Homo sapiens: one gene and its partners. The protein of the gene in region 1 interacts with the protein of each later gene in a pairwise test. Each region holds a gene or a part of one and is shown in the gene's direction. Other genes may lie near its edges.

Evidence for each region.
Region 2: the proteins of SNORC (region 1) and TMEM45B interact in binary tests that used the Homo sapiens proteins (3 or more experiments, as listed by UniProt).
Region 3: the proteins of SNORC (region 1) and ZDHHC15 interact in binary tests that used the Homo sapiens proteins (3 or more experiments, as listed by UniProt).
Region 4: the proteins of SNORC (region 1) and CISD2 interact in binary tests that used the Homo sapiens proteins (3 or more experiments, as listed by UniProt).

What each region holds. Positions count from the first base shown.
Region 1 is NC_000002.12:232,873,250-232,879,216, forward strand, and holds the end of SNORC (protein SNORC isoform c precursor), read left to right. Parts: intron 1-2,205; exon of another isoform or gene 2,206-2,248; coding exon of another isoform or gene 2,249-2,306; intron 2,307-2,344; exon of another isoform or gene 2,345-2,556; intron 2,557-2,582; exon of another isoform or gene 2,583-2,690; coding exon 2,691-2,873; intron 2,874-2,997; coding exon 2,998-3,107; 3' UTR 3,108-5,451; downstream 5,452-5,967. UniProt on the Homo sapiens protein: Plays a role in the regulation of chondrocyte maturation and postnatal endochondral ossification. May inhibit cell growth stimulation induced by FGF2.
Region 2 is NC_000011.10:129,818,824-129,825,853, forward strand, and holds part of TMEM45B (transmembrane protein 45B), read left to right. Parts: intron 1-7,030.
Region 3 is NC_000023.11:75,513,018-75,520,047, reverse strand, and holds part of ZDHHC15 (palmitoyltransferase ZDHHC15), read left to right. Parts: intron 1-7,030. UniProt on the Homo sapiens protein: Palmitoyltransferase that catalyzes the addition of palmitate onto various protein substrates.
Region 4 is NC_000004.12:102,871,981-102,879,010, forward strand, and holds part of CISD2 (CDGSH iron-sulfur domain-containing protein 2), read left to right. Parts: intron 1-7,030. UniProt on the Homo sapiens protein: Regulator of autophagy that contributes to antagonize BECN1-mediated cellular autophagy at the endoplasmic reticulum.

The sequences.
Region 1 (5,967 bases):
CCTCCTGATTAGAAAGCTTCATGGCCTGGCTGGACAGGAGGGGGCTGTGTACAGTGGGAGGAGGCCAGGGCAGGTATGTCTGGTGGTGGGCGCAGCAGAGACAGGCTGGGTCACGGGGGACAGATGGGGACAGGGCCTGAGTGGGGCTCCCCACTGCCCTGCTCAGAGGGTACCGTCAAGGGTGGCAGCTCACCCCTGCTGGGCTGGCCTGGGTACTGAGCCCTGCCTTCTCAGGGGCTGGAGGCCTGCCACTCCTCGGCTGATTCCCGCAGATGCCACCCGGCTCAGCTGGGCCTGGTACCCAGAAGCCCTGCCGCGGCCTCCAGATGCAGGGAGGTGCCTACCTGCCAGTCTGTCTTGGGTGTGTCATTTGTCCATTTCTTTGGACATGTTCAGGCAGTCAGTGAGCCTAGACCCTGGTGCCTGCCAGGCGGTGGGCGCACTCAGGCCTTTTACCTGCCCAGCCCCCAGAAGCCTGAGGCAGCACGCCAGGGGCCTGGGGCCTTCCATGGGGACTGCAAGGCTGCAGACCCCTGCCTTTCTGGCTGCGACATGGGAGGCCTGGCTGGGTCACTTCCCCTCCTCTCAGGGTGGTCTTCAAGGTTTGCGGGAGGCTAGAGAGACATCAGTGCTACAGTGCAGCCTTGGGCCCCTCGGGAGGGAAGCCTCCCCCAGTTGGGGGCCAATGGGCCTTCCACCCATGGGGCCTCCTGCCAGAGGTCTTTTCTGGAAAGGGGTTCTGCCTTGGGCCAGCCCTGGGGAATGTGGCAGGTCAGGTGAAAGGTCAGCAAGCTGTCTCAGAGCTGAGCCTTGCAACTGACCTCTCCAGGCTTGAGAGAGGCCCAGAAGCCAGGGACCTGCTAACATTTTATTGTGGAAAGATGTGAAGTTTACAGAAAAGTTGCACAAATACTCCAATGAACTCCAGGAGTCCATCCACCTAGTCTTGCCAACTGCCAACATTTTGCTACATTGCTGAATCCTCTATCTGAATGCTGAAATCATTTGAGAGTAAGTTGCAGAAGTCATGTTCCTTTGCCCCTAAATTCTTCCTAAGAACAAGGACATTCTCTTAACACACCAGAGTCAGCTATCAAAACCAGGAAGTGAGCACTGAGGCAGTCCTAAGCCACACCCTGTTCAAACTTCACCAACGGACCTGAGTCTCCGATCACAGGCCTGTCCCTCCCCGTCCAGGAACATTGAGCTGTCTCCTTAGTCTCTGATCTGGAACCTTTCGGCCTTTCTTTGTTTTTCCTAACTTTGACATTTGGGAAGGCCCATTTACTTTAAGACTGACCCTGAGTCTGGGTTGGCTGATGTTTCTGCGTGGTTTGCCCTAGATGGACACAACTGGCCAGAAAACCCTGGAAGGACCTCTGTGTCTTCTCGAGCATCCGCCTCTCTGGGTGCTGGTGAACCTATGAGGAGGGCAAGTGTCTGGCTTGACTCTTGCCCCAGCGCTCAGGGATGGAACCCGCAGGGACAAAAGGTGCCCTAGGGTCGCCGGCTGGCCGGCAGGGTCTGTTCACAGAACGGCAGCCTCCCTGCACTGTTTCTGGGCAGCACAACCGCTCCTGCAACTGTCCAAGGCCTTCAGCCCACCTGTGCTCACCACCACGGCACCTTATCCCCAAGCCTTGGCTTTCTTGTCTCTGAAATGGGGATAAAAGCAGTTCCCACACCACAGAGTAGCTGGAGTCAAAGAGATGAGGTGTTGGGACATCCCCAAGCTCATCCAGGGAACCGGCTTGAGGGTCGAGTGTCCCTGGATCACAGTCTCTATCCCAGTTGAGATTAGAGCATGGGGCCGGCCGCAGTGGCTCACACCTGTAATCGCAGCACTTTGGGAGGCCGACACGGGTGTATCACCTGAGGTCAGGAGTTCAAAATCAGCCTGGCCAACATGGCAAACCCCGTCTCAACTAAAAATACAAAAATTAGCTGGGTGTAGTGGCAGGTGCCTGTAGTCCCAGCTACTCCGCAGGCTGAGGCAGGAGAATCGCTTGCTTGAACCCGGGAGGCGGAGGCTGCAGTGAGCCGAGATTGTACCACTTCACTCCAGCCTGGGCACAGAGCAAGACTCTGTTTCAAAAAGAGAGAGAGAGAGATTAGGACATGGGCAGGCCTGCCCTGCTAACACTGTGATGTCAGATGGTCTGGCTGGGCTGGAGAGGCCAAGAGCCGACCTACCATCCCCATGTTGAGCTTTCCAGCGTTTCTGGGGCATCCTGTCTGGTTGCCGGGGATGGATGGCCCAGGGTTGGAGTGGTGGTCAGGGGAGGACAACTGGGGTGGGCTGGCTGGTGAGGATACAGGGCGGGGGTTATCATGCAGGCGTCTCAGCCTGTGCTTTCTGTGGGACTGAGAATGTCTCCTTTCTGCTCTCTGGTCCCTGGGTACCCCAAATCCTGCCAACTCCCAACCCTATAAGCAGAGAAGGGCTTTGTGGGGGGCACCTCCCTTACACTGAACAGACACTCCTCCTGCCCACCCACCGGCCCTGCCCAATGGGAGGCAGCAACGCACTGGCTTCAGCTTCTTAGCCTGGGAAATGTGAGGGCTAGTGCAGCGCTGAGCCCAGACCCCTCACACAGCGCTACCGGCAACTTGCTTAACCTAGAGGTGGGGGGTGACGTCCCTGTCGGCCCCGTCACCTGGGGCCCCAGCACCTCTCCTTGGCTTTGCAGACGATGTTCCACAGGAGCCCGTGCCCACGCTGTGGAACGAGCCGGCCGAGCTGCCGTCGGGAGAAGGCCCCGTGGAGAGCACCAGCCCCGGCCGGGAGCCCGTGGACACCGGTCCCCCAGCCCCCACCGTCGCGCCAGGACCCGAGGACAGCACCGCGCAGGAGCGGCTGGACCAGGGCGGCGGTACGGGCGGGGCGGGGGAGGGAGGGGAGAGGGAGAAATTAGGAGGGGCGGGGGGCGGGGGGCGCGGGGAGAAGGGCCGGCCAGGCGGGGGCTAGCAGGTGACATGGTCCTCCGTCCTCCGCAGGGTCGCTGGGGCCCGGCGCTATCGCGGCCATCGTGATCGCCGCCCTGCTGGCCACCTGCGTGGTGCTGGCGCTCGTGGTCGTCGCGCTGAGAAAGTTTTCTGCCTCCTGAAGCGAATAAAGGGGCCGCGCCCGGCCGCGGCGCGACTCGGCTGCACTCCTCACGCGCCTGTATGTCCGCGCGTGCGTGTCCGCGCATGCAGGTGTGCCAGAGCGTGAGCGCGCGCAGGCGAGCGCTCAGGGCGGGGGTGCGCGCGGGGCCGAGGGTGGGTGCCGTGCACGCGCGCGGGTCCGGAGGCGCGCCCGAATTCCCCGCAGGGGCGCCGGGGCGTGCGTGAGCGCACAGCATGTCCGAGCCCGCCTGCGTGTGGCGTGCACCTGAGCGCGCGCAGGGCCGCGCGGCTCGGCGTCCCCGTGCACCACGGCTGGAGTGCCTCAGGAGCGCGCCGCATGTGCGTGCCCGGTGCGCGTGCGCCGGGGCCGCCAGGGCATCGGAGCGGGTGTGCGGCCAGCGGTCTTAGCCCGTCCGGGGGCACCGTCACGGTCAGGGCCACGCCACGGGCGGCCCCTTCTCCCGGCGCCGCCTCCTCTGCCTGGGCGCGGGCCGAGGCCCTCGCCGCGCTCCCCGGGGCCTGCCTCCCATCCCGCTCCGCTGGGGTTCAGAGCGTTCCGTGAGGAGGTAAGCGCTAGGGCAGGAGAGGCCGACAGAGACCCCGGGGCCCGCCGCTCCTTGAGGCCGGGGTTGGGGAGGGCAGGGGCCGTCGGCTCTCCCAGCCAGAGGCCGCGTGGTTTTGGGGGACGTCTTGACTCTGAGTCCTGCAGCCAGGGCCCCATCCGCGGGCTCAGACCAGCAGCCCCAAGCCCCCCTCTGCCCAGGGAGCCTCAGGAGCAGGATGAGTCGAGAGTCGACGCCGGACACGGCCCGCCCCTGCTTCCTACTCTCACCCCCAGGCCTGGCTGGGGGCCGGCAGCCCCCACGCCCACGGTTGGTTTGTTCAGGGAGAGAAAACGGCTTTCCCAGCTCTACTCACCTCACTTCACCCTCAGAGAGTCGGGGCGGAGTGAGGGTGAGGAGCCTGGTCCAGGGTCCCCACCTCGGAAGCATTTAGAGATGTAAACTTTGATCCTTTGATCATTTAACCTGCTCAGCACAGCAGGAAGTGGGAACTTGGTCCCTACCCCAGTCCCCAGGGCCTTTGGAGGGAAGGGTTGGACAGTTTGGAGGCCAGCAGACCCCTTGGGGACAGCTTAATGTATCTGAAGATTCCTGAGTGGGAATGTTGCTGGAGGGCAAGCTGCTTCTCTTTTTTAAAAATTCATTTTCTCTAGCAGCTGTTTTGGCCCCTTTGGTGTCCCTGAGCTCCCCATGGCACTGTTTCCTGCCGTGACTTTCTCCTCCTGGACACTGGAGCCCAGGTGGTGCCCGCGCACCTCTCACACACTGGGGGATAGGGTCAAGGCCTCATCCAAGTCTGTTAACAGCTTCCCACTCAACCAGTCTCCCCAAAATACACTGTGAGTTCAATGATTCTGCTTATAAAGGAGTGCTATGAAACTGACCTATTTTCCTAATTGGTTAACTGACTTCATCTCACATAACCTTGAGTAACCAAAGCCTTCATCAGAGCGGACGATCCAACCCAACATGCTGTTTCCCATCCTCAAAAGGCACGGGGACCAATGGCCACCCAACTCCTTCCCAACCCTCCCCTCCAGGGACGAGAGATGGCCCCCTCTTTCCCTTTCCCCACTCTGCAAGCACTCCCCCACCAACGGGTGCATCACAGCCCCTCACTGGGACCAGGGGGCCTCCCTCTCCGGTGGAACCAGTGTCACATGCCTGTGCATCTCTGTGATTCTCAGAGGGTCTGAGGTCCGAGCACCCTGCTGTGGCCTGTGGGAAGACGCTACAAAGTCCCACTGGATCTAAACCAGAGGCCTGTTCTGGCGAGCAGGGAAACTGTGTCCTGGCAGAGATCGTGGTCCTGGGCACACAGGACCCCTCAGCACACTGAGGTGGAGCTGGGGCGAGGGGAGGGGGTGCGCTCTGGGTAACTGAAGGTGTGAAGGGCCCAGGGCCTGTTTCTGGGCAGTGCAGGAAGTCCCAGCCCCATGCCTGTGGTGAGATCCCCTGTAGGGCCCCCCCCACCATGGACACTTCGGGGCCTCTACGGTCTTCCAAAGCTGTGTCCTCATTTCCACTGCAGCAGAGGGGCGTCCCCAGCTCCGTCAAACAGCCCTTTCTGTTTCTGGAGTCCTACAAGTGGAGGCCCAAATCCGTTCCCATGTTGAGGCAAGGCCCTGGCTGTTCCTTCCTCTCTGGAAACCGCCTTGAACTCTTCCTTTGGGACATGCCTCCTCGACCAGCCTTGAAGGGGTGCTCCTCTCTCACTACCTGGAACCAAACACCCCCTTCCTTTGTGTACAAGGGCAATAAAGAGTAGACCTTCATCTTCTTTATTTTATATATGATGCTTCTTTTAATGCAGCCAAAAGTGATATTTGCTTTTCTCAGAACCATAATCGATACAAGATGCAGTGACCAATTCATTCCTTAAAACACCTGGGCTCCTTAAGGGGCTAGAAGACACAAGTTACATCCAGCCCATCAGGGAGCCAGAGGCGGGAGGGGTCCCCAGCCAAGCTCTGGCAGGCCTGCCATGGGGCAGGGCCTGACCGTGCAGCCAGAGGCTGGCAGAGGCCTGGGGAAGGGTGGGCAGAGGCAGCTGGGCTCTCAGTCCTGGAACCGGAGACCAAGGGCTGCTCATCAAGCTCCGTCAGGCAAGGGCGGCCTCATCTGTGCCTGGTAGATTCTAACTGCTTCCAAGGTAGAGGAGGACGCGTGCAGGAAATCGTGTCAATTGTCACCTTCTGCCTGCCTCCCACAGGGACACTCTGGGTTGGGAGCCTCTTCCAGTCCCTGGGGGCCAGGGGCATGGGGGGCCCTGGAGTGTGCCCACCCCCTTCCACCC
Region 2 (7,030 bases), on another chromosome or scaffold:
TTTCAAGGAAGAAAACCGGATTTAAGAAAAATAAAGCAAGTACCTCATGTTGCTTCCCCAAATCTACTTCATTGGAGAATTACAGCTAAAAACAATGTTCAGATTTTTGCTCCTTCTGTCATGTGGTCCCTTGAGAATTTGCCAAATGTATAAATCCAGTGACTTATTTTGATGTACTCTTTTGGTTTGAGGTCTGTGACAGCAAACATAACCTCCTTGAATCCCAGCCTCAAATGCCTATGGACCTTCTGTTCTAACTGTTATTATAACTGTAGCCGTTATTATAGTGGCTAAAGTTCTAACTTCTGTTCTAACTGTGCTCCTGGTTCCATGACAAAGAGAGCTTTACTTGTCTTATTCCTAGCACAGTGCCCATAGCAGGCATACATAAAATGTGGTATGTCAGATAAACATCTGAAAAAGTGTGAGATGTCATTAGACGTTCATTCAGCTACAAGAACAGAAAACCCTACTACAGCGGCTTAAACAAGTAAGGAGTTTGTTTTTCTCAGAGAACGAGAAGTCTGGAGGTGAGAAGGCTGGGGCTGGGAAAGGGGTTCCGATATGAACGTCATCTGAGACAGGCTCCTTGTGTCTTCCCGCACCACCCTCCTTAGCATGGAGCTTTCATACTCACTTCCGCAAGTTGCAGCAGAAAGACGGGCAGAGGCATGCTCCAGAAGAGTCTTGTCTTGTCTTTTCTTTTCTTTTCTTTTCTCTCTTCTTTTCTTTTCTCTCTCTCTCTCTCTGTCTCATCTCTTTCTTTCTTTTGACTCAGAGTCTCTCTCAGTGGCACAATCTCGGCTCACTGCAACCTCCGCTTCCTGGGTTCAAGTGATTCTCCTGCCTCAGCCTCCAAGTAGCTGGGATTACAGACGTGCACCACCACGCCCAGCTAATTTTTGTATTTTTAGTAGAGACGGGGTTTCACCATGTTGGTCAGGCTGGTCTTGAACTCCTGACCCTGTGATCTGCCCCCCTCGGCCTCCCAAAGTGCTGGGATTACAGATGTGAGCCACCACGCCTGGCCTGTCCTTCTTTATAATAAATAATAATAATAACAGCTTTTCTGGTAGCCCACCCCAAAAGACTTCTTACATGTCATTGGCCAGAACCATATCACATACACACTGTTAACGGTGACGGAACCAGAGAGAATCTAGTGTTTGAGACAGACACGTTGCCAATACATCAAAATAAGAATTTTGGGCCAGACACAGTGGCTCACGCCTGTAATTCCAGCATTTTGGGAGGTCAAGGCGGGTGGATCACCTGAGGTCAGGAGTTCAAGACCAGCCTGGCCAACATGGTGAAACCCCATCTCTACTAAAAACACAAAAAATCAGCCGGGCGTGCTAGCAGGCGCCTATAGTCCCAGCTACTCAGGAGGCTGAGGCAGGAGAATCGCTTGAACCCAGGAGGCAGAGGTTGCAGTGAGCCGAGATCATGCCACTTGCACTCCAGCCTGGACAACAAGAGCGAAACTCCATCTCAAAAAAATAATAATAACAACAAAATAGGAATTTTGTTAATAAGGCGGGGGGAGAATGAACATTGGGTAGGCAGCTAGCAGCATCTGCCATAGTGTGTTTTATGAGTCATAGATCCTGTCTCTAAATAGGTTGTTATTTGTTTTGGTTTTTTGTTTGTTTTACTAAAAAGCAATGGGTAATGCAGTGGGTCCAGGGGAACTTTTTTAAATGGTAGAGTGCAAGGACCACTCTGAGAACTGCTGATTATGTAGGTCTGGGCTGGGTCTATAATTCTCCATTATGGACGGGCACGCCAGGTCATCTGAGGGCAGGTGGTTGCGGGAATACATTTTGAGAAACACCGAATGTCAGGTAGTTTAGCAAAAGCGACTTTATTTTATTTCTGTTAGCTTTTTGCCTCACTCCTCTTGAGGGTATACTTTATTTTTTAATTATCTGCTTTGGTCAACATAAATCAATGTATAGTCTTAGAAGTCGTTCATTGTAGAAGGTTTTCATTGAGTTTATACTGAGTATAGAACCCTAGCGGCAATTACTTTCAATGCTTTGGGTTGTGTTTTTCTGATATTACCATATTCTAAATAGCATGCAGATACGGGCCATTTCTTCTTCTCTTTTCCAGTTCTGGATGACATCTATTGACATCCTACCAAGAAGGATGAGGGTTTCGCTCCTTTACACCCCCACCCTCCCTCTCACCTTCACATCCCTTTCTTTTAAGTTCCCAGTACGGTTATATCCTAAATTTTTGATATGTCAATGTTTGGTGTATATATTATTCCCAACTAAGGCACATGATACACCATGATCTTTACATTTCCCTTCTTGACCAGTCTTTCCCCCAACCCCCTGGAATGGGGTGTAGGAGTTGCTACATTTTCTTTAGTTGTTTGAGAACTCATCACCAAGAAGTCATTTCCTGGAGCCAAGGAAACTCATGGGGGCCCTCTGAGTGCTGCTAATTGCATGGAGCTGTTGAGTGGGGAGGAAACGCCAGGCCGCCATCAAGAAGCATTTGGGGTAAATTTTCCAAGCACATCTGAAAAGACAGAGTCTAGAACCTCCACGGTCCCTGTCTGTTGTGATTTATTTTCTCATTCTAAATACACACACACTTTTTTTTTCTGTCTAGGCCATCTCTTGTGGAATACATATGTACTTTCATACCCAATTATGTACAGTTTTTGTAATTTTACGCCTTTTTCTTAAAGAAGGCTCCCAAAAGTGTATAAGATTCAGGCCCCATAAGATGCGGTTGCTTTTTGAGCTTGTGCCCATTTGAGATGTCACTTTTCTTCCTTCACACTTGCTTGCTGGTTTGGCTGGGTATGGGATATTAATCAGAAATCATTTCCCGTACGAATTTTGAAAACATTGCTCTATTTTATTCTACTTTCTTACGGTGCTGTTGAGAGGCTGATGCCATTCTAATTCCTGATCCCTTGTATTTTGTTCTAATCTCTGGGCATTTGTAGGGTTTTCTTTATTGTTCATATTCTGATATTTCATGATGTTGTTATTTAATGTTGGGGTGGGTTTTTTGGCGGGGTGGGGGGAATACAGGGAGGTATCCGTCACTGTCCTAAGTATTTTCTAGGCCTTTTCAATCCAAAAAGTACATTCTTCAGTTCTGAGTGGTTTTCTTCTGTTATATAATTTCCTCGTTCTTTCTTTCTGAAACTTAAATTACTTAGACTGAATCTGAAAATGGGATCTCTTGGATCTGTCTTGTAATTTTATCTTTTTTATTTTAAAAAATATCCCATGTTTTTTTAGTTCTAATAAATCTTCCAACAATGCTATTAAATGTTTACATTCTACCATTATATTTTTAATTCTCAGGAGCTTTTATTGGCGAGAGGTGTGGTCTTCTGAATGGTTTTTACAGTATCCTGTTCTCATTTCATGAACGCAGCATCTTCTCTTCTTTCTCCAAGCATATTAACTCAGTACTTTTTCTACATTTTAGAAGTTTTCTTCAGCTACCTACAATGTCTGTGTCTATTTTTAAAGTGACGTTTAATGTTGCTTTTGGCCTGCCTTTCACGTTGGAAGCTTTATACATGTTTGGGGATGGTGTGCGTCATCTGTGAGCATGGCTTGTAGGTTGGCTGGCTTCATTGCAGGGTGGTTAAGCAGAGAAGGCCTTTTTGATGGCTTATCATCATCTGTCTCTAGTGCTTTCTAGTACATATAATGGGTTTCTCTGTAGAAAGATCTCATTTCTAGCCATTTATTCCTGTTTGAGAAAAGTCACATAATAACTTAGATGTATTTATTATGTCATCTGCTTAATAGCGGAGGTTCTTGTTGTAAGGTGGACAGGTGGAGGTCTAGGATTCAAAATGGGAAATGTGTCCTTGACTCCGCCTGCACTTTGAAGTTGCTGATGTTCTCCATGTTTTATTTTCTATTGAAAAAGCTCTGAGATACTAGGGAATGAAAACTCTTTGACTACATGTACAACTAATTTACTTTTTGATAACCATTTGCAAAATATGGATTATATTGGGAAAACATTTTTCTTTTTTTTTTTTTTTTTGAGACAGAGTCTCACTCTGTGGCCCAGGCTGGAGTGCAGTGGCGCGATCTCAGCTCACTGCAAGCTCCGCCTCCCGAGTTCAAGCCATTCTCCTACCTCAGCCTCCTGAGTAGCTGGGATTACAGGCGCCCACCACCATGCCCAGCTAATTTTTGTATTTTTAGTAGAGACAGGGTTTCACCATGTTGGTCAGGCTGGTCTCGAACCCCTGACCTTGTGATCCACCCACCTCGGCCTCCCAAAGTGCTGGGATTACAGGCATGAGCCACCACACCCAGCCTGGGAAAATATTTTTCTAATATCTCTAGAATTTGGGACAGAATTTCTGTCCTTGAAGGTCACCCTCCAAATCCATGCAATTTTTCCCTTCTGCAGCCCCACAGTGATCATCAAAACTTGGAGCAGATTCATGTTTTTTATTTTTTTCCTGGGAAAGTTTTAGATCACGTGAAGGGAACAGATACTACGTTTGATAGGAATCGTTCCTGCTTTAGCTTCTTAAGGCCTCTCACTTGGAAAGCCTGCCCATTAGACCCTGATTTTTTGCTGTTAGCTTTTCCTTCTTAGGCGACTTCAACAAAGACTGCAAACTCCCTGACAGCACAGGCCCAGGCTTGTCACCCCTGCAACTCCATCTCCCAGAACAGTGCCTTATGCATAACAGGTACTTGATAAATGTTAGTTGACTTAAATTGACCCTATTATCTGTTTTAAACTAGCCCTTCCTACCTGTCCCCTTGCTATTTCCTCTGTTTCTGTTAAATCTTTTTATGTCACCACCTCTTGGATGATGCTACCTCATTCTCAAATCTGATGGTATGGAATAGCTATAAGAAAACAAACTTGAAAGATCTCTAACTACTAGGACTCTAAGTAGAATTTCCTGGATTGAAAACTCCCCATATCACCCTACTAAATATCTAATTATTTCTTAGGTTATCACCAACCACCCTGCATCGAGTCCCTCCTGAGCCACAGTTCAGTTTGGATTATTTTTTTCCTCATGTTCCATCCCTTGACTGTAGTGCCCTTCCCTTCCTTCCAGTGTCTTTGATCGGCCTGCACTTTGATCCAGAGCTTCTCTTTGATCTGTTCTAATGGTCATTTTTCTGCCTCCTCCCCTACATTGATCTACAATCTGGCATATTTTATACATTATACAAAGCTCATTGTTGTGCTCATTTCAGAATACCTACCTGTCAATCACACAGACATCTTTTCAAACCTAACTCAGACCCACAATGAAAGTCCCTCTCTTCTGGCCATTACTGAGATAGCTCCTGCTTCGGTCTCACTGGGGCTGTTTATTTCTCTATGGGAGGCTCTAGAACAGTAACTAAACTACAGTGCAAAACAGTGATCTATAGATTACTGTTTCTCAATCGTCAGCACTAACAATAGAGTCTAAACTCCCAGGGACCTGGAGACTTGTCTGAGAACAGCCTGGCATAAGTGCAGTCTCTCTTAATACTAAAAAATATATGCTACCCCACAATATGTCTGTATCTGTTTTAAAATGAAAATCATTTTTCCAGAATCTTTAGGTGAAATTGATACTCCAGGATTATGTTCGTCTTGTGATTTCAGATATCATCTGGGGGGAAAGGATTCACACATATGCCAGTCTGTGAGACACAGTAGTAGAAATCAAGGGACTTACCTAGCTCTAAGAATTGTATGAAAATAGTAACGGTACCAACAATTTTACCAATGGCTAGATTTAGGAGATGGTGTTCTCTTGATTCAAGATGAAGGCTAAGCTGCATCAGTTCAGTTCAGTTTAAGAACTATTATTATGTATCAAGCTTGTGCTAGTTTTTGATGGAGATGATAAGGTCTCCACTCTTGAAGATTCTGTAGACTAATGGGCAAGACATATGTCACTATATAATTTTAATATAACATGGTAAGTGATAAAAAATCATGGTATGTATGAGGTCCTTTGAAAACACAGAGGTGAGGCGCTTAGCCCAGCCTGGAGATTCACAGAGGCTTCCTGGAGGAAATAAGGCCTAAATATGGAAACCAAGTAAGAGGAATGAAAAGGACGTGCAATTTAGAGGGGACAACATGAGCAAAGGGGACACTGTCAGGTTCATGGTGGGGAGAATTGGGAGGTGACACTGGAGAGGAGCCACATTCAGGTATACCCAATGCAAGGGGACGTGGACCCCTCCACAGGCTGCTGGTTAGCCAATGGAACATTTTCCATCCTCCAGTAGTGTAGTCAGATGTACACGGAAGGTGGATGACTGGCTGCGGGGTGGAAGAAGAATTCATGGACAGCAGGACTAGAGGCCTCGCAGTGTTTAGGAAAAAGACAATGAGAGACCAAATGAGATCATTGCTGCAGGCACAGAAGGGAAAGAGAAAATACCAGGATACTTGGGGAAGCGAATTTAGCAGAATTTTGATGTCTTTGGGGGCAATGGTGAGGGGAGAAGAGAGTCCAGAATGACTCCCAAGATTCTGGCTTTCTGGGTGACTGGACATTAAGCCATTAACTAAGTTTGGGATATGAGAAGAGAAGCCGATTTGGTGGGGAAAGAAGATGGTGAGTTCAGTCTTGGAAATACTGACTTGAGGTGTCTAAGAAACATCTATACGTTTATGTGCATGTCTGTCTGTTCAGCAGGTTGTTGGATCTATGAGTCTGAGACTTAGAGACAAGGCCAGAGCTGGAGATGAAGTTGTGGGAGTCACCATTGTGCAAGTGGTGATTAATCCATGGGTGTGCGTGAGAGTTCTTGCAAGGGGAAGAGGAAACGGAAGTAAGGGCTTATGCAAGGAGGACTGTTGAGTAAAGTGGAAGGCCCAGCCTCTGCCTGCTCACTAATGTCAGTGCTGAACAAGCCCACTGGTAGTGGATGCTGAGGGAAGGAAGGAAGGAGTCTGTCTGTAAGCTTGAGCACTTTTTCCAAGAGGTGGAGAAGGCAGAGAGCCCAAGCCTTGAAGAAATGTTCCTTAGTGGCCTGGCATCTTGGAAATTTGACTC
Region 3 (7,030 bases), on another chromosome or scaffold:
AAAACCCAGGCAGTATGTTGCCACAGTCTCCTCTAAACTAATGCAGAGGTAAAAACTTTGTGACATACAAGCCAGATGTAGCCTTCAGATATATTTTGCCTGGCCTGCACAGTGTTTTCTTAACATTTTGCATCAGTTCCCATTATTTAAAAGTCAGGAGAATAAGGCAGCTTTGACTTTCAACTCTGGCTGAACCAGTCCCTCCTGCCATCATCAGTTTAACAATCTTGTAACAAATTAGCAACCTGGGTTTTGGAAAGGTTAAATCAAATTTTCCTAAGGCCACACATTTAGTAATAGTGAAGAGTTGGAAATCCAGGCTGCCTGATACCAAGGCCATACCTTTTCCAACACAAATAAATTAACAAATTTGCATTTCAATATGTCTCAAAAAGTAACATTAAGGACCTAACTTCTTTCCAGGGATAAAACCTGATGTCTTTCTCCCTAACGTTACATTAGAGCTGAAACCAAAAGAGATGTTTTTGTCCTTTAATTCTTAGAGTTTGAATTCTGCCATTTACTAGCCTGGAGACCTGGGGCAAGTAACTTCACTCTCTCAACCTCAGTTGTCTCACATGTACCTTGCTTCTACAGTTGTTCATCCATATGACAAATGGTTGCTTAGCACTCAGTATATGCCAGGTATTACTGCTGTGAGGCTCAAATAACATGATGCCTGAAAAGCATGCATCACAGTTCACAACACATTATAAGAGCTCATTAGATAGTAACTTGTGATTAGTAAAGAAATAAAGGATTCTTCCTGACCCAGGAAAATAAGAAGCTTAGCTTTTTAGAGAGGAGGGAAAGTAACAGTATCCATTTTATTGGGGTGAAATTTATATAACATAAAATTAACCATTTTTAAGTGTTCGCCTCAGTGCCATTTAGCACTCACAATGTTGTGCAGCCATCACCTCTATGTAGTTCCAAAATGTTTTTGTTATCCCATAAAGAAACCTCATAAGCATTAAGCAGTCACTCCCTGTTCCCTCTTCCCCCAAGTCCTAGCCAATTATTAATCTGCATTCTGTCTCTATGGATTTACCTATTATGGATGTTCCATATAAATAGAATCATAAAATATGTGTTCTTTTGTGTCTGACTTCTTCCAATTAACAAAATGTTTTTGAAATTGGTCCACATTATATTATGTAACAGTAATTTATCCCTTTTAATGGCTGAATAATAGTCTATTGTGTGTGTGTGTGTGTGTGTGTGTGTGTGTGTGTGTGTGTATATATATATATATATATATATATATATATATATATACCAGTTTGTTATCCATTCATCCATTAATGGCCATTTGGGCTATTTCTACCTTTTGTCTCTTCTGAATAGTGCTGTTACAAACATTCATGTATTTGTTTGAATATCTGTCTTCAATTATTTTGAGTATATACACCAGGGAGATGGATGGGGATAATTGGACTGTATGGTAATTCTATGTTTAACTTTCTGAGGAACCTCCAAACTATCTTCCGCAGTGACTGCACCATTTTACATTCCCATCAAGCAGCACAGAAGGGTTCCAATTTGTCCACATTCTCACCAAGACTTGTTATTTTCAGTTTTATTTTTATTATAGCCATCTTACTGGGTGTGAAGGGGTATCTCATTATGGATTTGATTTGTATTTCCATAATGAAAAAAATATTGAGTATCTTTTTATGTACTTGTTTGCCATCCATATATCTTCTTTGGGAAAATGTCTATTCAAGCCATTGTCCATTTTTTAAATGGGATTTTTAAATTGGGTTGTCTTTTTGTTGTTGAATTTTAATATTTTTTGCATGTTCTGAATACTTGATCTTTATCAGATACGTTATTTGCAAACATTTTCCCCCATACTTGATAGTATCATTTTATACACAAAGATTTTTAATTTTAATAAAATTCAATTTATCTATTTTTTCTTTTGTTGCCTATGCTTTTGGTGTCATATTTAAGAATCCATTACCAAATGCAAGAGCATAAAGATTTACCCCTGTGGGATTTTTTTGTTTGGTTGGTTGGTTGGTTGGTTTTGGTTTTTTGTTTGTTTGTTTGTTTTTTGTTTTTTTTTGTTTTTGTTTTTGATACGGGACCTCACTATGTTGCCCAGGCTGATCTCAAACTCCTGGGCTCAAGTGATCCTCCCACCTTAGCCTCTCAAATAGCTGGGGCTACAGGCGTGTGCCCTGTGTTTTCTTATAATAATTTTATACTTTTAGCTCTCACCTTTAGGTATTTTAGCCATTCTGAGTTAATTTTTTATATCTGGCATAAGATACGAGTCCAGCTTTTTTTTAAAATTTTATTATTATTATACTTTAAGTTTTAGGGTACGTGTGCACAACATGCAGGTTTGTTACATATGTATACATGTGCCATGTTGGTGTGCTGCACCCATTAACTCCTCATTTAACCTTAGGTATTTCTCCTAATGCTATCCCTCCCCCCTCCCCCCACCCCACGACAGGCCCCCGTGTGTGATGTTCCCCACCATGTGTCCAAGTGTTCTCATTGTTCAATTCGCACCTATGACTGAGAACATGCAGTGTTTGGTTTTCTGTCCTTGCGATAGTTTGCTGAGAATGATGGTTTCCAGCTTCATCCATGTCCCTACAAAGGACATGAACTCATCCTTTTTTATGGATGCATAGTATTCCATGGTGTATATGTGCCACATTTTCTTAATCCAGTCTATCATTGATGGGCATTTGGGTTGGTTCCAAGTCTTTGCTATTGTGAATAGTGCCGCAATAAACATACTTGTGCATGTGTCTTTATAGTAACATGATTTATAATCCTTTGGGTATATTCCCAGTAATGGGATCTCTGGGTCAATTAGTATTTCTAGTTCTAGATCCTTGAGGAATCACCACACTGTCTGCCACAATGGTTGAACTAGTTTACACTCCCACCAACAGTATAAAAGTGTTCCTATTTCTCCACATCTTCTCCAGCACCTGTTGTTTCCTGACTTTTTAATGATCGCCATTCTAACTGGTGTGAGATGGTATCTCATTGTGGTTTTGATTTGCATTTCTCTGATGGCCAGTGATGATGAGCATTTTTTCATGTATCTTTTGGCTGCATAAATGTCTTCTTTTGAGAAATGTCTGTTCATATCCTTTGCCCACTTTTTGATGGAGTTGTTTGATTTTTTCTTGTAAATTTGTTTGAGTTCTTTGTAGATTCTGGATATTAGCCCTTTGTCAGATGTGTAGATTGTAAAAATTTTCTCCCATTCTGTAGGTTGCCTGTTCACTCTGATGGTAGTTTCTTTTGCTGTGCAGAAGCTCTTTAGTTTAATTAGATCCCATTTGTCTATTTTGGCTTTTCTTGCCATTACTTTTGGTGTTTTAGTCATGAGGTCCTTGCCCATGCCTATGTCCTGAATCGTATTGCCTGGGTTTTCTTGTAGGGTTTTTAAGGTTTTAGGTCTAACATTTAAGTCTTTAATCCATCTTGAATTAATTTTTGTATAAGGTGTAAGGAAGGGATCCAGTTTCAGCTTTCTACATCTGGCTAGCCAGTTTTCCCAGCACCATTTATTAAATAGGGAATCCTTTCCCCATTTCTTGTTTTTGTCAGGTTTGACAAAGAGCAGATGGTTATAGATATGTGGTATTATTTCTGAGGGCTCTGTTCTGTTCCATTGGTCTATATATCTTTTTTGGTACCAGTACTATACTGTTTTGGTTACTGTAGCCTTGTAGTATAGTTTGAAGTCAGGTAGCATGATGCCTCCAGCTTTGTTCTTTTGGCTTAGGATTGTCTTGGCAATGCAGGCTCTTTTTTTGGTTCCACATGAACTTTAAAGTAGCCTTTTCCAATTCTGTGAAGAAAGTCATTGGTAGCTCGATGGGGATGGCATTGAATCTATAAATTACCTTGGGCAGTATGGCCATTTTCATGATATTGATTCTTCCTATCCATGAGCATGGAATATTCTTCCATTTGTTTGTGTCCTCTTTTATTTAATTGAGCAGTGGTTTGTAGTTCTCCTTGAAGAGGTCCTTCACATCCCTTGTAAGTTGGATTCCTAGGTATTTTATTCTCTTTGAAGCAATTGTGAATGGGAGTTCACTCATGATTTGGCTCTCTGTTTGTCTGTTATTGGTGTATACGAATGCTTGTGATTTTTGCACATTGATTTGGTATCCTGAGACTTTGCTGAAGTTGCTTATCAGCTTAAGGAGATTTTGGCCTGAGATGATGGGGTTTTCTAAATATACAATCATATCATCTGCAAACAGGGACAATTTGACTTCCTTTTTTCCTAATTGAATACCCTTTATTTCTTTCTCCTGCCTGATTGCCCTGGCCAGAACTTCCAATATGTTGTTGAATAGGAGTGGTGAGAGAGGGCATCCCTGTCTTGTGCCAGTTTTCAAAGGGAATGCTTCCAGTTTTTGCCCATTCGGTAGGATATTGGCTGTGGGTTTGTCATAAATAGCTCTTACTATTTTGAGATACATTCCATCAATACCTAGTTTATTGAGAGTTTTTAGAATGAAGGGCTGTTGAACTTTTTCAAAGGCCTTTTCTGTGTCTATTAAGATAATCATGTGGTTTTTGTCTTTGGTTCTGTTTATATGATGGACTACGTTTATTGATTTGCATATGTTGAACCAGCCTTGCATCCCAGGGATGAAGCCAACTGGATCTTGGTGGATAAGCTTTTTGATGTGCTTCTGGATTCGGTTTGCCAGTATTTTATTGAGGATTTTGCATCAATGTTCATCAGGGATATTGGTCTAAAATTCTCTCTCTTTTTTTTCTTTGTTGTGTCTCTGCCAGGCTTTGGTATCAGGATGATGTTGGCCTCATAAAATGAGTTAGGGAGGATTCCCTCTTTTACTATTTATTGGAGTAGTTTCAGAAGAAATGGTACCAGCTCCCCTTTGTACCTCTGGTAGAATTCGGGTATGAATCCATCTGGTCCTGGACTTTTTTTGGTTGGTAGACTATTAATTATTGCCTCAATTTCAGAGCCTGTTATTGGTCTATTCAGGAATTCAACTTCTTCCTGATTTAGTCTTGGGATGGTGTATGTGTCCAGGAATTCATCCATTTCTTCTAGATTTTCTAGTTTATTTGCATAGAGATGTTTATAGTATTCTCTGAAGGTAGTTTGTATTTCTGTGGGATCAGTGGTGATATCCCCTTTATCATTTTTTTATTGCGTCTATTTGATTCTTCTCTCTTTTCTTCTTTATTAGTCTTGCTGCTGCCTCACAATTCTATCTCGGACTGCTGTACTAGCAGTGAGCAAGGCTCCATGGGCGTGAGACCCACCGAGCCTTGCATGGGATATAATCTCCTGGTGTTCCATTTGCTAAGACCATTGGAAAAGCACAGTATTAGGGCGGGAGTGTCCCGATTTTCCAGGTGCAATCTGTCATAGTTTCCCATGGCCAGGAAAGGGAATTGCCAGACCCCTTGTGCTTCCTGGGTGAGGTGATGCCCCGCCCCGCTTCGGCTCACACTCCATGGGCTGCACCCACTGTCCAACCAGTCCCAGTGAGATGAACCTCGTACCTCAGCTGGAAATGCAGAAGTCACCTGTCTTCTGTGTTGCTCACGCTGGGAGCTGTAGACTGCAGCTGTTCCTATTCAGCCATCTTGGAATGATCCTGTTGAATACCAGCTTAATTTAATAGTATACAAAACCCAGCCGTTTACAGCTCTGTTGCCCCCTTTATGCTATTATCACAAATTACATCTTTATACATTGTATACTCCTTAACGTAGATTTATCATTGTTGTTTTATGCATTTTTTCCTTTAAATTAGATAGTAAAAAGAGTTAAAAAAAACGTAAAACTCAATATTACTTGCTTTTGTAGCTACCTGTATAGTTTACCAGTGTTCTTATTTTTTTGTATAGCGTGGGTTACAGTGAGTGCCTTTTCAGTTTTTCTAAAGAATGCCCTTTGGCATTTCTTGAAGGGCAATTCTACTAGTGATCAGCTCCCTCAGTTTTTGTTTATCTGAGAATGTCTTGTTTTCGCTTTCATTCTTTGAAGTATAGTGTTGCTGGACATAGAGTTCTGTATATGTGTTGACAGATGTTTTTCTTTTTCTTTCAGCAATTTAAATATCACATTTCACTGCCTTCTAGCCTCTGTGGGTTCTTAAGAGAAATCAGCTGTTAGTCTTATTGTTTTTTTTTTGTTATGTAAAAAGTCAATTTTCCTGCTTTCAAGATTTTCTTTTTGTTTTTTGGCAATTTGACTATAATGTGTCTGATTGTGGATATCTTTTAGTTTATTCTATTTGGAGTTCATTGCACTTCTTGGATGTTTAGATTCATATTTTTTACCAAATGTATGAAGTTTTTTAGCCATCATTTTTTCAAATACTCTTTCTGTTTTTCCTCTCTTTCCTCTCACTTTGGAAGCCCCGTTATGTGTATATTAGTATGTTAGGATATAGGCTGTATATTAGAGTGTAGGCTCTATTATTGTATATAGTAGAGTGTAGGCGGCTGTCCTCACAGCCTCTACTGATCTGGGATGTGGAGGATGGTAGGCAGCCACTTTAAAATGTCACAGTATCCTCTTACTACAAAGCATCAGTTCTTTTCTTCACCAAGTCTTCCTCTCTGGTTATTGTAACAATTTTACTAGATTCCAGAGTTCTGCAAAAGTTTATTCTGACAGTTTTTGCCAGCTCATTAGTTGCTTTTGAGGAGGGATGTAAGTCTGGAGTACTCTTAGTTTTGGTGCCCAATAGTATCCATTCTGAGATTAAAAAATAAAAATAGCTATGATATAATTCTACTTGAAAGGTAGAAATTTTCCGAAGAGACATGAAGTCCTTGCCCACGCCTATGTCCTGAATGGTAATGCCTAGGTTTTCTTCTAGGGTTTTTATGGTTTTAGGTCTAACGTTTAAATCTTTAATCCATCTTGAATTGATTTTGTATAAGGTGTAAGGAAGGGATCCAGTTTCAGCTTTCTACATATGGCTAGCCAGTTTTCCCAGCACCATTTATTAAATAGGGAATCCTTTCCCCATTGCTTGTTTTTCTC
Region 4 (7,030 bases), on another chromosome or scaffold:
CAGAAACAACTTAACTATCTTTGTTTATGTCACATTTTCAAGAGTGAGGCGTTCAAGATAAATTACTGTGATTATCTAATTTATGTTTAACTTAGGTTTTTGTTTTGTTTTGTTTTTTGAGAGGGAGTCTCTTTTGCCCACACTGGAGTGCAGTGTCGGCTCACTGCAACCTCTGCCTCCTGGGTTCAAGCGATGCTTATGCCTCAGCCTCCTAAGTAGCCGGGACTACAGGCATGTGCCACCATGCCTGGCTAATTTTTTGTATTTTTAGTAGAGACGGAGTTTCACCATGTTGGCCAGTCTGGTCTTGAACTCCTGACCTCAGGTAATCCGTCTGCCTCGGCCGCCCAAAGTGCTGGGATTACAGGTGTGAGCCACTGCGCCCAGCCCTACCTTAGGTTTTAAGTGGTAATAGTAAACTCATGCATTGAAAATATTTTATCTTTTCTACAGTTAAGAAATAGAAATAATTTCTGTGTTTAGCTACATATGATAAATGAGAAAATATGTTATAAAATAACTAGCAACCAAGCTGCCAGTATTATTTTTATGGTATCATAAGATGATATGGCTATATTATATGTAGATGTTTGAAAATTTGAAATGGAAAAATTCTGTTCTAGTTCTGTGGAATGTAATTCCTCATTAAGATCGGAGTTTGTCTATGTCATTTTTATGTCATTTTATGTCATTTTTAGCTATTATTAAAAAATGTTTTAATAATAGTATTTATATGTCATAAGGAATAGGTGTCATAGCTAGCCTGTGTCACTATATATAATAAAAGGTTAAACCTAATTTTGTTTCCCAAAGAAGATACTTCATTTTGACAATGTCTAAACTTTCAGAAAATTTATGCTAAAATTGGTAGCTACCGTATTATTCCGTTTTCATACTGCTATAAAGAACTACGCAAGACTGGGTAATTTATAAAGGAAAGAGGTTTAATCCACTCACAGTTCAGCATGGCTGGGGAGGCCTTAGGAAACGTACAATCATGGCGGAAGGCGAAGGGGAAACAAGGCACCTTCTTCACATCATGGCAGGAAGTAGTGCCGAGCAAAGGAGGAAGAGCCCCTTATAAAACCATCAGATATCATGAGAACTCACTCACTATCACCAGAACAGCATGGGGGATACCACACCCATAATCCAATTACCTCCACCTGGTCTTTCCCTTGGCACGAGATTATGGGGATTATAATTCAAGATGAGATTTCAGTGGGGACACAAAGCCTGACCAAATCAGCTATTCAAGTTGCTTTGAAATTTTCTTTTCTGACTAGATTTTGGTTTTCTTTTGTGAGAAAGGGTTTCACTCTGTTGCCCAGGCTGGAGTGCAGGTGGCATGATCTCTACCCACTCATTGCAGCCTTGACTTCACAAGCTCAAGCCATCCTCCCACCTCAACCTCTTGAGTAGCTGGTACTACAGGTGCACGCTACCACACCTGGCTCATTTTTTTGTATCTTATTTTAGAGACGGGGTTTTGCCATGTTGCCCAGGCTGGTCTTGAGCTCCTGAGCTTAAGCTATCCACTCACCTCAGCCTCCCAAAGTGCTGAAATTATAGGTGTGAGGCACTGTGAGTGGCCTAGATTTTGTTTCTCTGATGGTGCTGGTTCTTTCATTCTTCCTTTTTGGTCCTGTTATTTATCTTAATAGTGGGATACGTGGAAGGCTGAGGCAAGAGAATTGCTTGAGTCGTGGCACTACATTCCAGCCTAGGCAGCAGAGCGAAACCGTCTCAAAAAAAAAAAAAAAAAAAAAGGGATGTAAAAGTCAATATGTATATTAGGTCCTTGCTCAGTATTGAGCTCAATAAGAAGATGAACAACTCACATTTAAAAATTGGCAAAACAGGCCAGGTACGGTGTGGCTCATGCCTTTAATCCCACCGCTTTGGAAGGCTGAGGCAGGCAGATCACTTGAGGTTGGGAGTACGAAACTAGCCTGGCCAACATGGTGAAACCCCGTCTCTACTAAAAATGCAAAAATTAGCCGGGTGTGGTAGTGCACACTTGTATTCTCAGCTACTCAGGAGGCCAAGGCAGGAGAATCGCTTGAACCCAGGAGGCAGAGGTCACAGTAAGCTGAGATCGTGCCACTGCACTCCAGCCTGGGCAACAGAGTAAGACTCTGTCTTCAAAAAAAAAAAAAAATTGGCAAAACAGAAAAATGAACAAAATCTTATCCTTTGCAGCAATATGGATGCAGCTGGAGACCATTATCCTAAGGAGATTAACACAGAAACAGAAAACCAAATAACACATATTCTTACAACTGGGAGCTAAACATTGTGTATTCATGGACATGAAGATGGCAACAGTAGACACTGGGAACTGCTAAAGGGGAGGGAGGCAGGAGGTCAAGGGTTGAAGACTATTGGGTACTATCCTCACTACCTAGGTGGGAGGATCAGCCATATCCCAAACCTCAGCATCACACAATATACCCATATGACAAACCTGCACATTTACCTCCTCAACCTAAAATAAAAGTCGAAATTATATTAAAATATTTTAAAAAGGAAATTTGGGCACACACAAAGGGAGAACACCATGTGAAGATGGAGGCAGAGATTGGGGTGATAGACCTACAAGCTAAGGGACACCACAGCTTCTCCCTCAGATCCTCCAGAAAGAATCAACCATGCTGACACCTTGATTTTGGACTTCTCGCCACTAGAACTGTGAGTGAATACGTTTCTGTTGTTTTAAGCTAAAAAAGAAAACGAAAATGCAAGCACGAACACATTGTTCTCTGCAGTTTAGGGAATCCTAGTAGAGACTACTGCTCACATTTGTTCTCTCTTCTCTGCTTTAATGGCCACTACCTTAGTTTTATCTCAAACTATTTTCTTCCAGACCATTTCCATGGATTTTCAACAGGTTGTCTTGCCTTGTCTTCTTCCACTAGCCCTCTCTGCTATTCCTGTGGCCCTCTAATCCATCTTCCATCTGATACCAGAGTGACTTCATAGGTGAACAATTTCCTAGTTAGGCTAATATTCAAATATTTCAGTGGTTTCCTATTATGCACAGGTTAGATTCTTACTTACCTGTTGAATATCAGAGTTTGTCATCATACGGCACCTGCTCAGTTCTACAGCTCCCTTTCATTAAATTCTAACAATACTATGGTGCTTAGTTTCCCAGACACTTAATGCATGTCATATCTCCGTACCTTTGCCTATGCAGCTTCCTCTGCATGGAATGAAGCTCCTCCTCCCATATTCCCATGAACTTCTGTACTCTTCATCTTTCAGAAACCTATTTAAGTATCAAAACCTGTACAGTTTTTGCTCATGCCAGTAAAAAGTGAATAACTTGTACCTCTGCGTTGCTTCTGTATTATTGCTGATAGTACACAGTATTATGATCGTCTTTTATAGGTCTGTCTTCCATACTAAATGGCAAGCTCCTTTCTAACAGGGAGTGTGTTTTATAATTTTTGTATCTTCAGTACCTGTCCCACCACCTGATACATGTGAGTGAGGTATTACAATTTTAGAAGGTGCTGAAAGTTTTTTTCTTAAATATTTTAAGTAGTCTTCCTGTATTTTAACTTACACTGTCATTATTCATAAGCCATGAACAAAGACAAGTAAGTACAGACCTTGTAGGAATTATCTCAAATGCCAGTTTATTGGAGTACAAACTCAATTAGGCTAAAACTTACTGAGGTCTTGGTTTATGTAAGTCTCTGTTAAAGGGTAGGGAGTTAGGGATTTTTTGTTTAGTTGGGGAGGAGACAAATATTTACCTAACTATATAGTTTTAAGGCAGAATGCATTAATAGTTTGAATTGTGTTCTGTAGTTTTTACTGAGTGGGTTCCTACTTCATTCGTTTCTCCCAGCAATCCTATGAAGTTAGAAGACTCTTTACTTTTCTTTGTGCCTTGAAAATTCTGCGCTCAAGTGCTTGAGCTCCTGGCTTCTCATTCGTTAGGTCTCTGCTTAAAGGTTCTTTTTTCAGAAACCTTCCCTGACCCCTTACCTAAAATTGCAGCCACCCTACTGCTTTGCCCCAGGTTAGTTTTTCTCTTATGTCATCCTTTATTTCCTTTATAACAGTTACTATAGTCTGTGATCATCTTGTTTATTTGTTCACTTGTTTATAGTCTCTGTCCTCTGAAATATATACCCTATGAGAGAAGGGACCTTATCTATTAGCCTGTATCCCCACATAGTGCAGTTTGTGGAGTGTGGTAGGTACTAAGTAAATATTGTTGAACAAATGAGCTTACAGTTGTTATTCCTGCTTTACAGACAAAAGAAACCTGGTTCCAAGTATATGAAAATCTGGATTTATACCACAGATAAACTGAATTAGTTGTTTACTGAAGTCCTGTTATGTGCAAATTACTAAGCACTGGTTACATAGATATAAATAAGACAGCTACTGTATTTGCATTTAGCACAGTATCTCTACATAGTAGGTGTATTAGTCTGTTTTCACACTGCTATAAAGGTAACTACTCAAGAGGCCAGGTGCTGTGGCTCATGCCTGTAATCCCAGTACTTTGAGAGGCCAAGGTGGGCAGATCATGAGGTCAGGAGATCGAGACCATCCTGGTCAACATGGTGAAACCCCATCTGTACTAAAAATACAAAAAAATTAGCTGGGTTTGGTGATGCACACCTGTAATCCCAGCTACTCAGGAGGCTGAGGCAGGAGAATCACTTGAACCCCTGAGGTGGAGATTGCAGTGAGCCAAGATCATGCCACTGCACTCCAGCGTGGTGACAGAGTAAGACTCCATCTGGAAAAAAAAAAAAGATAATACCCAAGAATGGGTAATTTATAAAGGAAAGAGGTTTAGTTGACTCACAGTTCTGCATGGCTAGGTAGGCCTTAGGAAACTTACGGTCATGGTAGAAGGGAGCGCAGACACCTTCTTCACAAGGAGGCTGGAGAGAGAAGAGTGAGGAGTGAAAGGGCAAGAGCCCCTTATAAAACCAGATCTCATGCGAACAGCATGGGGAAAACCACTCCCATGATCCAATCACCTCCCACCAGTTTCCTCCCTCAACATGTGGAAATTATGGGGATTATAAGAGGTGAGATTTGGGTGGGGACACAGAGCCAAGCCATATTATTCCACCCCTGGCTCCTCCCAAATTTCACATTCATTTTGCATTTCAAAATCAATCATGCCTTCCCAACAGTCCTCCAGAGTCTTAATTCATTTCATCATTAACTCAAAAGTCCACAGTACAGAGTCTCATCTGAAACAAGGCAAGTCCCTTCCACCTATGAGCCAGTAAAATAAAACATAAGTTAGTTCCTTTTAAGATACAATGGCAGTACAGGCACTGGGTAAATACACCTATTCCAAATGGGCAAAATTGGCCAAAACAGAAGGGCCACAGGGCCCATGCAAGTCTGAAATCCAGTGGGGCAGTCATTAAATCATAAAGCTCCAAAATGTTCTCCTTGACCCCATGTCACATCTGGAGAACACTGATGCCAGGGGTAGGCTCCCATGGCCTTGGGCAGCTCCTTCAAGGGCTGGCATCGAGTGCCTGCGGCTTTTCCAGATGCATGGTGCAAGCTGTTGTTAGATATACCATTCTGGGGTCTGGAGCAGGTAGCCGCCTTCTCATGGCTCTGCCAGGCAGTGACACAGTGGGGACTCTGTGTGAGGGCTCCAACCCCACATTTCCCCTTTGCACTGCCCTAGCAGAGGTTCTCCATGAAGGCTCCACCCCTGCAGTAGACTTCTGCCTGGACATCCAGGTGTTTCCATACATCCTTTGAAATCTAGGGTGAAGTTCCCAAACCTCAATTCTAGACTTCTATGCACCCACAGGCCCAACACCACATGGAAGCCACCAAGGCTTGTGGCTTGCTCCCTCTGAAGCAGTGGCTCAAGCTGTATGTTGGCCCCTTTTAGCCATGGCTGGGACACAGGGCATCAAGTCCCAATACTGCACAAAGCAGCAAAGCCCTGGGCCTGGCCCACAAAACCATTTTTTCCTTCTAGGCCTCTGGGCCTGTGATGGAAGGGCCTGCTGTGAAGACCTCTGACATGTCCTGGAGACATTTTCCCCATTGTCTTGGCAATTAATATTTGGCTCCTTGTTACTTATGCAAATTTCTGCAGCCAGCTTGAATTTCTCCCCAGAAAATGGGTTTTTCTTTTTTTTGGGGGGGCGGGGGGAAGGAGGGGGACAGAGTCTCACACTGTCACCCAAGCTGGAGTGCAGTGACACAATCTCAGCTTGCTGCAACCTCCGCCTCCTGGGTTCAAGTGATTCTCCTGCCTCAGCCTCCCGAGTAGAACTACAGGTGTGCACCACCATGCCCAGCTAATTTTGTATTTTTAGTAGAGACGGGGTTTCACCATGTTGGCCAGGACGGTCTCGATGTCTTGACCTCATGATCTGCCCGCCTCAGCCTCCCAAAGTGCTAGGATTACAGGCATGGGCCACCAGCACCCAGCTGGGTTTTTCTTTTCTGTTGCATCATCAGACTGCAAATTTTCCAAACTTTTATGCTCTGCTTCCCTTTTAAACCTAAGTTCCGATTTCAGGTCATCTCTCTCTCAAGTTTCATCAGTCTCTTGGGCAGGGGCAAAATGCCACCAGTCTGTTTGCTAAAGCATAGCAAGAGTGACCTTTGCTCCATTTCCCAGTAAGTTCCTCATCTCCAGCTGAGACCACGTCAGCCTGGATGTTATTGTCCATATCACTGTCAGCATTTTGGTCAAAACCATTCAATAAGTCTCTAGGAAGTTCCAGACTTTCCCACATCTTACTGTCTTCTGAGCCCTCCAAAGTGTTCCAACCTCTGCCAGTTACCCAGTTCCAAAATTGCTTCCACATTTTCAGGTATCTTTATAGCAGTACCCAACTCTCTGTTGTAGCAATTTACTGTATTAGCTTTCACACTGCTATAAAAGAAATAAAAACATAAAATAAAAATACTACCCCAAACTGGGTAATTTATAAAAGAAATAAGTTTAATTGACTCACAGTTACGCATGACTAGGGAGGCCTCAGGAAACTTACAATTATGGTGGAAG